Linked DNA regions of Homo sapiens: region 1 is linked to region 2. A link means that fine-mapping ties the variant in region 2 to the expression of a gene that starts in the linked region. Tissue or cell type: whole blood. Region 2 holds a variant in brackets; the other region holds the start of a gene. All regions are shown on one strand. Distances are from middle to middle. Region 1 holds the start of CWF19L2 (CWF19 like cell cycle control factor 2). Region 2 overlaps CWF19L2 (CWF19 like cell cycle control factor 2).

The links.
Region 1: it holds the start of CWF19L2, and the variant in region 2 is fine-mapped to the expression of CWF19L2 in whole blood (INTERVAL, PIP 0.97).

The regions. Positions count from the first base shown.
Region 1 is chr11:107,455,927-107,460,325 of GRCh38, reverse strand. CWF19L2 (CWF19 like cell cycle control factor 2) reads left to right here and starts at 2,501. Exons shown (of 18, transcript NM_152434.3): 1 at 2,501-2,614. The coding sequence starts at 2,510. RefSeq lists an enhancer at 2,217-2,722.
Region 2 is chr11:107,376,157-107,380,555 of GRCh38, reverse strand. The region is part of intron 12 of CWF19L2 (CWF19 like cell cycle control factor 2); the gene reads left to right. Among named protein-coding and RNA genes, the nearest start is that of CWF19L2, 79 kb to the left of the region's middle. The variant C/A (reference allele first, on the strand shown) is at 1,919.

The DNA of each region.
Region 1 (4,399 bases), 80 kb before region 2:
TATAAAAATAAATAACTTGAAAATTTGGTACATGATCTACATAGTTTCAAAGAACCACTTCACAAAATACTTATTATAGAAGGAAAAGAGGTACTTTACAGCAGAGAAGCTCTGCAGATGCCAGTTTATTTAAATGATCAGAATTAACATCACCTGTAATGGAACAAATGGAAATCATGCGCTACCCAACAGGATGCAGTAAGACCGCCTCACTTCTGTGATCGTCCTGCTTAAGAGGCCAAATTTGAATTTAATCACAAAAGAACCTCCGACAAACCCAAGTTGAGTGACATTCTATAACACAACTATCCTGCAATCTTCATGAAACTTTTGTAGTTAATTGTGATCATCTGACCTATTTCTGGATCATAGGATTTAAATGAAAGAAACTGAACTAGGCTTTAGGAAAAGCCATCATTTTTCTAATAAAAAATGAGGCCAGCTTAGCTAACAACGTTTACCCTTTGTCCTTTCTCTTTATTCTTGTTTATCAGATGCCGTGAACAGATGTGAAAGAATATGATACCCTGCTTGTGACTACAAATACTAAAGTCACAGACTGCAACAAAGCGAAAAAGGATAAACTATTTGGCTCCTTCAGCAATTGCACCAAGCCTGGACCAGTTACTTTTAGGCTCCTTGTTACGTTATCCTTTATTTGATTAAGCCATGTGACTGGATTCGCATTAGGTGTGGCCAAATGCAAACCTAGCCAAAATAACCTGCTTTTTCTTTCTTTTCTTTTCTTTTCTTTTTTCTATTTTAACATATCTAGTTCCCCTCTCTAACCCCAACTTTTTTTTGGGCAGTTTTATTTGTATTGCATGGTATTTACAAATTAATTGAGAAATGATTTTTTATGATGTTTTCTTCTTTAAGCACATAGTATACCTCTCCATTCGTTCTAGTCTTTTTGGGGAGCTTATGCAAGATTTTAAAGTTTTCTTCATATAACTTTGCACATTGCTCTAGACCGAATGTTTGTTTCCCCAAAATTCTTATGTTGAAATCTAATCCCCAATGTGCTGGTATATGGAGGTAGGGACTCTGGGAGGTGATTAGGTCATGAGAGCAGCACCCTCATGAATTCCTATAAAAGAAGTTCTAGAGAGATCCCTCTCCCTTTCCGCCATATGAGACACAGCAAAAATACTGCCCTCTAGGAACCAGGACACACCTTCACTAGACAGCAAATAGCCCAACACCTTGATTTTATCCAGCCTCCAGAACTGTAAGACATACTTGTTTGTTATTTATAAGCCATCCATTCTATAATATTTTGTTATAGCAGCCTGAACTGATTAAAACACACACGTTTCTAATATAATCACAGTTTATTTTTATTGAATTGATGCAAAACAGTGAAATGGATGTTTTTCTGAATTCCAAGAGAATCTGAAAAGACGTTGATGCTAGTTATGACAAATATCAGTCAATGTAGTCAGTTGATTAAATATTACAAGGTCGATTAGTAAATTACATTTTAAAATAAAATGAATACTTTCTATTGCATATCAAACAAGTAGGCATTGTGTGTTCAAGATTCAGACTCATAGAATGGTAGTGAATGTAAAAACTCTTGGAAAGCTTCTTGCAAACACACATTAAATTTTATGAAACCTGAAGAGAAAGAGTATTTACCTCAACCTGGCTTATGTTACTTATTTTTAGCGTCTTTAAGGTATCGTTTATAATTAATTCCCCAGCCTTCTTCTTCTTGTAAATGTAAGCTTAGTGTCTTATGTTCTCAAAGCACTTCATCACCTTAGAATGTCTTATTCTTCTGAACTTAAAAGTTTTATGTTTGGGCGATACATGCGTAAAACAAAACAAAGAAATCTCCGCAGAAATAAATAAGTAACTGTCCATTGTAATGAAAAATGCTTGGATGGATAAGTATGAGTAAATAATATGGGGTCAGAGGAAAAAATATAATGTAAACTTCTAACAAGTTAAGCACGGGTAAATTGTGAAGTGCAATGCAAAATTCACATGAGTGTTTCATATATTAAGTAAAATCCACCAAAACAAAACACTGAATCTTCAAGGCAATTCTGTCCTTCCTGCCAGCTGCCACTACCTTTCTGGCAGCCTCCCTTTATCCCATTCCTCCAGCACAGGGAAATGATGCTCTGGCGACAAAGGGTACTTCCGCAGAAAACTTTTGAGAGGTACCAACTTAACTTCCAAGAGCTTGTAACTTACTCCGGTGATTTTAAGACGAAATTGGTGAGAAAGCTGTTAATATAGTAAAAAGTGCATAATAAATATATACGGGTATTAATCCTGCTCACAATCGCACCCAACACCTGAAAGAATTAAACCCTCCAACACCCTTCGGGTCTTTAAAATCTGGGCTGCGGTAATCCGAGCCCTAAGCGACCTCAGATGTGCGCATGCCCTGTTGGTGGAGCCGTGCTCCTCCTTCCTCGGGTCCGGAAGTCCCGGTTTGTTTGTTAAATTACGACCGTCGTAAACTAGAATTTTCTTGCGGCTTCTTAGCTTTACGATGGCAACAAGTATGGCGGCTGCTAGTGGTAGATTTGAAAGTGCGAAGAGTATCGAAGAGCGGAAAGAACAGACCCGGAATGCCAGGGCCGAGGTGTTGCGCCAGGTACCTCTGTTTTGGGGCTTTTGTAGTTATTTATTGTTGTGGGAGTTGAGGGTTCCCGTAAGCTAGCCCACTCACCCCTTCCCTTACCTCGTCAGTACTGAATCTCACCTTAATTTGGGTGAGTTCTCCCTTTGCAATGCCGGTAAACCCTTTTGTAGCTACCGATTTTTTAGATGTTCTGGCAGGTGCCAGTTGCTAATTCTCTTTTCAGGCAGATCTGTCGCTTTTTCTCCAAGTTTCTTTACCTTTTAAGTTACCCATTCTTTACATTTCTATCACTCGGACTGCACACTTTGTAGGTCCCCTGCGGCTTGTAAGGACTCTGCCAGCATGTCTCGCAGCCTCAGTCATTGCTACTGCTGTATCTGAAATGAGATTTTCCTTTTTCGGAAACACATTCAAGTCACACTTGAATAGACTCAGTTTGACATTTCCTCCTCCTGTCTCTATTGGTATCAATTCCAGACTTACTGTAAGCTCTTACCAATCCAAACAAAAGTTAACACCAATCTCAGTATATTTAGCCTGTCACAAAAGATCGCGAAACATTGTATTTCTCACTAAACTTCAGATACATAGAGGTAACATACAAAGAATGGAGAAAGTAAGCTTCTGAATTATCTGACAATCTATTCAATATGTAAGAAGTGTGGCAATGAAAGAGAAAAGTTGCAGTTGGAGAGCAACAGAGAATTCAGTGAGGGTTTTTGTTTTTATTTAAGTTGGAAGAGTTTTAAACAAGTTTAAATGCAAATGAGAAGGAGCCAGCAGAGAAGAGGGAGAGGAGACTCTAAAGGGAAAATGACATAGTTTCAAAATTTGGCAAATAATTTGAGGGTGAAGCAGCCCCATTCTCCTTTAATCTCCAATTTTCTCACCCTGTTCTTTGGAGTCCATCATAAGCCCTGCTCTTTTCTCTGATATCGATTTTTCTGTTTGGTATATAACCATTGTATTCATCTTCTTGCCTACACCAAGAATTATTATATGCACCCAGGGAAAAGCTAGCTGCAGAATGTTGGACTACCTCTCCATGATTTTCCCTTTTCTGGAATATTAACTCTTCTAGTTCTTGTTGCTTCAGCAGTTCTCTGATATAAACCTTTAATAAATTATTTTTATATTTGATTAAAAAAAAAAAGAAAATGACTACAGCCAGGTTTTAAAGGGGAAGAGTGGGCGATTAGTCTTGGGTAGGTGAAATGTTGGTATTGTTTCGTAATTTCAACATATGTAATGTGTGTGTGTGGGTATATATATATTATTCATTCTTTTCTCTTTGGTATTTCCAGCAGTTTTTGGAGGGAGTAAGTTTCGTAAGTTGAGATAAATCTTATAGTAGAGATATGCATAGAATTTGAAAAGGACCAAACTGAGCTTTGGAGTTACAGGGAAAGAAAGAGGGCAGGAACGATTTCCTAGGAAAAACTTGCTTTGTTTGACTATCATTGAAGAATGGATAAAAATTACCAATATGATCCTTTCTTTATACAGAGATGATTCTTCCTGAGGCATTTTTGGGGCTGGGTATTGGGGCTACAGGCATTGCATATTGAAGGCGTGGAGGTCTAACTGTTGCAAAAGTCTTAAGGCAGTAGCCATGGGAATGGTGAAGGGAAAAGGGATTCCAAGTCATATTGAGCTAGGGAGCTTAGAGAGATGGGAGGGCCTGGACTCAGTCCCTGGATTCTCTCTGATTGGTAACTCAAATCACTGGAGATTGGAAATGCAGAAGGAGAGATTTTTGCTTTGTTTTGTTTATTTATTTATTTTTTTATTTTTTTA
Region 2 (4,399 bases):
TTTGTTTTTTGTAAAAGCTATCCTTGGTGTGAAGTGGTATCAGTTGTGATCAGGTCCCAGTTCTTGACCCTGGTGAGATTTTATGAGGTCTTTTGGACAGTTCTCTCAGATTTTAATCAAAGTTTAAATTGTTGACAGTTGAGCATAGTGGTTTAATAGCTTCACTATCCATAGAGTCCAAAATGATATGAAGTTTATATTTAATCAATGAATTCATCTATTTCCAATGGATTTAAGGGCTTGGAGCTTGAAGGATAGTTTCACAGTTTTGATTAAAATTTTGATTTAATAAACATTGTCATAAAATTTGAAATGGTTTTGTAAGAATTAGACTGCAGTCTATTTTTCATTGTTGGTAATCCTTGTGTAATAATGCAGCACTTATTAAATAGATTCATTGCAAACCATTTTTTTTCTATATAATGACACTAAAATAAGCCTCTAGTTTTCATAGAGTTTTTATTCAAGGATCTTAGTATCTGATTTTTTTTTTTTTTTTTTTTTTTTTTGAGACGGTGTCTCGCTCTGTCGCCCAGGTTGGAGGGCAGTGGTACGATCTCAGCTCACTGCAAGCTCAGGCCATTCTCCTGCCTCAGCCTCCCGAATAGCTGGGACTATAGGGGCCTGCAACCATGCCCGGCTAATTTTTTTTGTATTTTTAGTAGAGATGGGGTTTCACTGTGTTAGCCAGGATGGTCTCAATCTCCTGAGCTCGTGATCCACCTGCCTCGGCCTCCCAAAGTGCTGGGATTACAGGCGTGAGCCACCGCGCCCGGCTGAGTATCTGATTCTTAATAAAATGACAGTTAATTTGTAGTATTTCAGGTTTTTCTTTATGCAGACATCAAAATGGGAAAACAAATTAGCTTTCATGGTTAGAAGACATTAATATTTTTGTATGTTTAAAATGTAGGTTATGAATTCACTTCTGGTAACAACTTCTGTAACCAGGCTTGAATTTGGAAACTGATTGAACAGGTTATCAGTAGTAAATCAGTTTAACTCCCTAACTCATGTGGATGGTTGTTATTAGTGGATACAAAAGAACTTTTCATGTGCAGTTATCAGAATCAGAATCCCTCTTGAACATGGCTTCACAGCCTTAGCGCTATTGATATTTTGGGCTGGTTAAGTCTTTGTTGTAGAAGGACTGTCTGTGAACCATAGAAGATTTAGTAGCATCCCTGGCCTCTGGCCAGCAAATACCAATAGCAACCCCTCTCACCCTAAGTTGTGACAGCCAGAAATGTCTCCAGATATTGCCAGATGTCCCAAATAAGGGGCAGGAAGCAAAATTGCCTCATTTGAGAACACAATCTTGGGAGAATCTGGGAGAAAATAGTAATAACTACAAATTTTTGAGGACTTGCTAGGTGCCAGATCCTTTTCATACCATAATACTTATAATTGTCTCTCAACAGGGTATAATTAACCCCATTTAATAAAAACTGTTGCTCAGAGATATTCAGTAGCTTGCCCAGGATCACGTATCTCTTTAACGAATCTGGCTTGTTTTCAGTATTTCCTATACCATTGTGTAGTACTACTATCTAACCTAGATTAGAAAGCTAGTAGTCATCAGATGAGGGAGAATGATCTCTCCTTTGTTCTCCACATCCAGTCTGTCACCAATCTTGTCTTCCTATGCCCAATCTACTTCTCTTTGTTCCTGTTGCCATCACACTATCGATGCTATCTTTCTTTTTTTTTGTTACAATATATATTTATTGACTTTATAATTTAAACATTTTGTAACTTTATTTTATTTTTATTTATTTATTTATTATTATTATACTTTAAGCTTTAGGGTACATGTGCACAATGTGCAGGTTAGTTACATATGTATACATGTGCCATGCTGGTGCGCTGCACCCACTAACTCGTCATCTAGCATTAGGTATATCTCCCAGTGCTATCC[C/A]TCCCTCCTCCCTCCACCCCACAACAGTCCCCAGAATGTGATGTTCCCCTTCCTGTATCCATGTGTTCTCATTGTTCAATTCCCACCTATGCGTGAGAATACGCGGTGTTTGGTTTTTTGTTCTTGCAATAGTTTACTGAGAATGATGATTTCCAATTTCATCCATGTCCCTACAAAGGACATGAACTCATCATTTTTTACGGCTGCATAGTATTCCATGGTGTATATGTGCCACATTTTCTTAATCCAGTCTATCATTGTTGGACATTTGGGTTGGTTCCAAGTCTTTGCTATTGTGAATAGTGCCGCAATAAACATACGTGTGCATGTGTCTTTATAGCAGCATGATTTATAGTCCTTTGGGTATATACCCAGTAATGGGATGGCTGGGTCAAATGGTATTTCTAGTTGTAGATCCCCGAGGAATCGCCACACTGACTTCCACAATGGTTGAACTAGTTGACAGTCCCACCAACAGTGTAAAAGTGTTCCTATTTCTCCACATCCTCTCCAGCACCTGTTGTTTCCTGACTTTTTAATGATTGCCATTCTAACTGCTGTGAGATGGTATCTCATTGTGGTTTTGATTTGCATTTCTCTGATGGCCAGTGATGGTGAGCATTTTTTCATGTGTTTTTTGGCTGCATAAATGTCTTCTTTTGAGAAGTGTCTGTTCATATCCTCCGCCCACTTGTTGATGGGGTTGTTTGTTTTTTTCTTGTAAATTTGTTTGAGTTCTTTGTAGATTCTGGATATTAGCCCTTTGTCAGATGAGTAGGTTGCGAAAATTTTCTCCCATTTTGTAGGTTGCCTGTTCACTCTGATGGTAGTTTCTTTTGCTGTGCAGAAGCTCTTTTGTTTAATTAGATCCCATTTGTCAATTTTGGCTTTTGTTGCCATTGCTTTTGGTGTTTTAGACATGAAGTCCTTGCCCATGCCTATGTCCTGAATGGTGACGCCTAGGTTTTCTTCTAGGGTTTTTATGGTTTTAGGTCTAACGTTTAAGTCTTTAATCCATCTTGTATTGATTTTTGTATAAGGTGTAAGGAAGGGATCCAGTTTCAGCTTTCTACATATGGCTAGCCAGCTTTCCCAGCACCATTTATTAAATAGGGAATCCTTTCCCCATTGCTTGTTTTTCTCAGGTTTGTCAAAGATCAGATAGTTGTAGATATGCGGCGTTATTTCTGACGGCTCTGTTCTCTTCCATTGATCTATATCTCTGTTTTGGTACCAGTACCATGCTGTTTTGGTTACTGTAGCCTTGTAGTATAGTTTGAAGTCAGGTAGTGTGATGCCTCCAGCTTTGTTCTTTTGGCTCAGGATTGACTTGGCGATGCGGGCTCTTTTTTGGTTCCATATGAACTTTAAAGTAGTTTTTTCCAATTCTGTGAAGAAAGTCATTGGTAGCTTGATGGGGATGGCATTGAATCTGTAAATTACCTTGGGCAGTATGGCCATTTTCACAATATTGATTCTTCCTACCCATGAGCATGGAATGTTCTTCCATTTGTTTGTATCCTCTTTTATTTCCTTGAGCAGTGGTTTGTAGTTCTCCTTGAAGAGGTCCTTCACATCCCTTGTAAGTTGGATTCCTAGGTATTTTATTCTCTTTGAAGCAATTGTGAATGGGAGTTCACTCATGATTTGGCTCTCTGTTTGTCTGTTATTGGTGTATAAGAATGCTTGTGATTTTTGTACATTGATTTTGTATCCTGAGACTTTGCTGAAGTTGCTTATGAGCTTAAGGAGATTTTGGGCTGAGACAGTGGGGTTTTCTAGATATACAATCATGTCATCTGCAAACAGGGACAGTTTGACTTCCTCTTTTCCTAATTGAATACCCTTTATTTCCTTCTCCTGCCTAATTGCCCTGGCCAGAACTTCCAACACTATGTTGAATAGGAGTGGTGAGAGAGGGCATCCCTGTCTTGTGCCAGTTTTCAAAGGGAATGCTTCCAGTTTTTGCCCATTCAGTATGATATTGGCTGTGGGTTTGTCATAGATAGCTCTTATTATTTTGAGATACGTCCCATCAATACCTAATTTATTGAGAGTTTTTAGCATGAAGGGTTGTTGAATTTTGTCAAAGGCCTTTTCTGCATCTATTGAGATAATCATGTGGTTTTTGTCTTTGGCTCTGTTTATATGCTGGATTACATTTATTGATTTGCGTATATTGAACCAGCCTTGCATCCCAGGGATGAAGCCCATTTGATCATGGTGGATAAGGTTTTTTATGTGCTGCTGGATTCGTTTTGCCAGTATTTTATTGAGGATTTTTGCATCAATGTTCATCAAGGATATTGGTCTAAAATTCTCTTTTTTGGTTGTGTCTCTGCCCGGCTTTGGTATCAGAATGATGCTGGCCTCATAAAATGAGTTAGGGAGGATTCCCTCTTTTTCTATTGATTGGAATAGTTTCAGAAGGAATGGTACCAGTTCCTCCTTGTACCTCTGGTAGAATTTGGCTGTGAATCC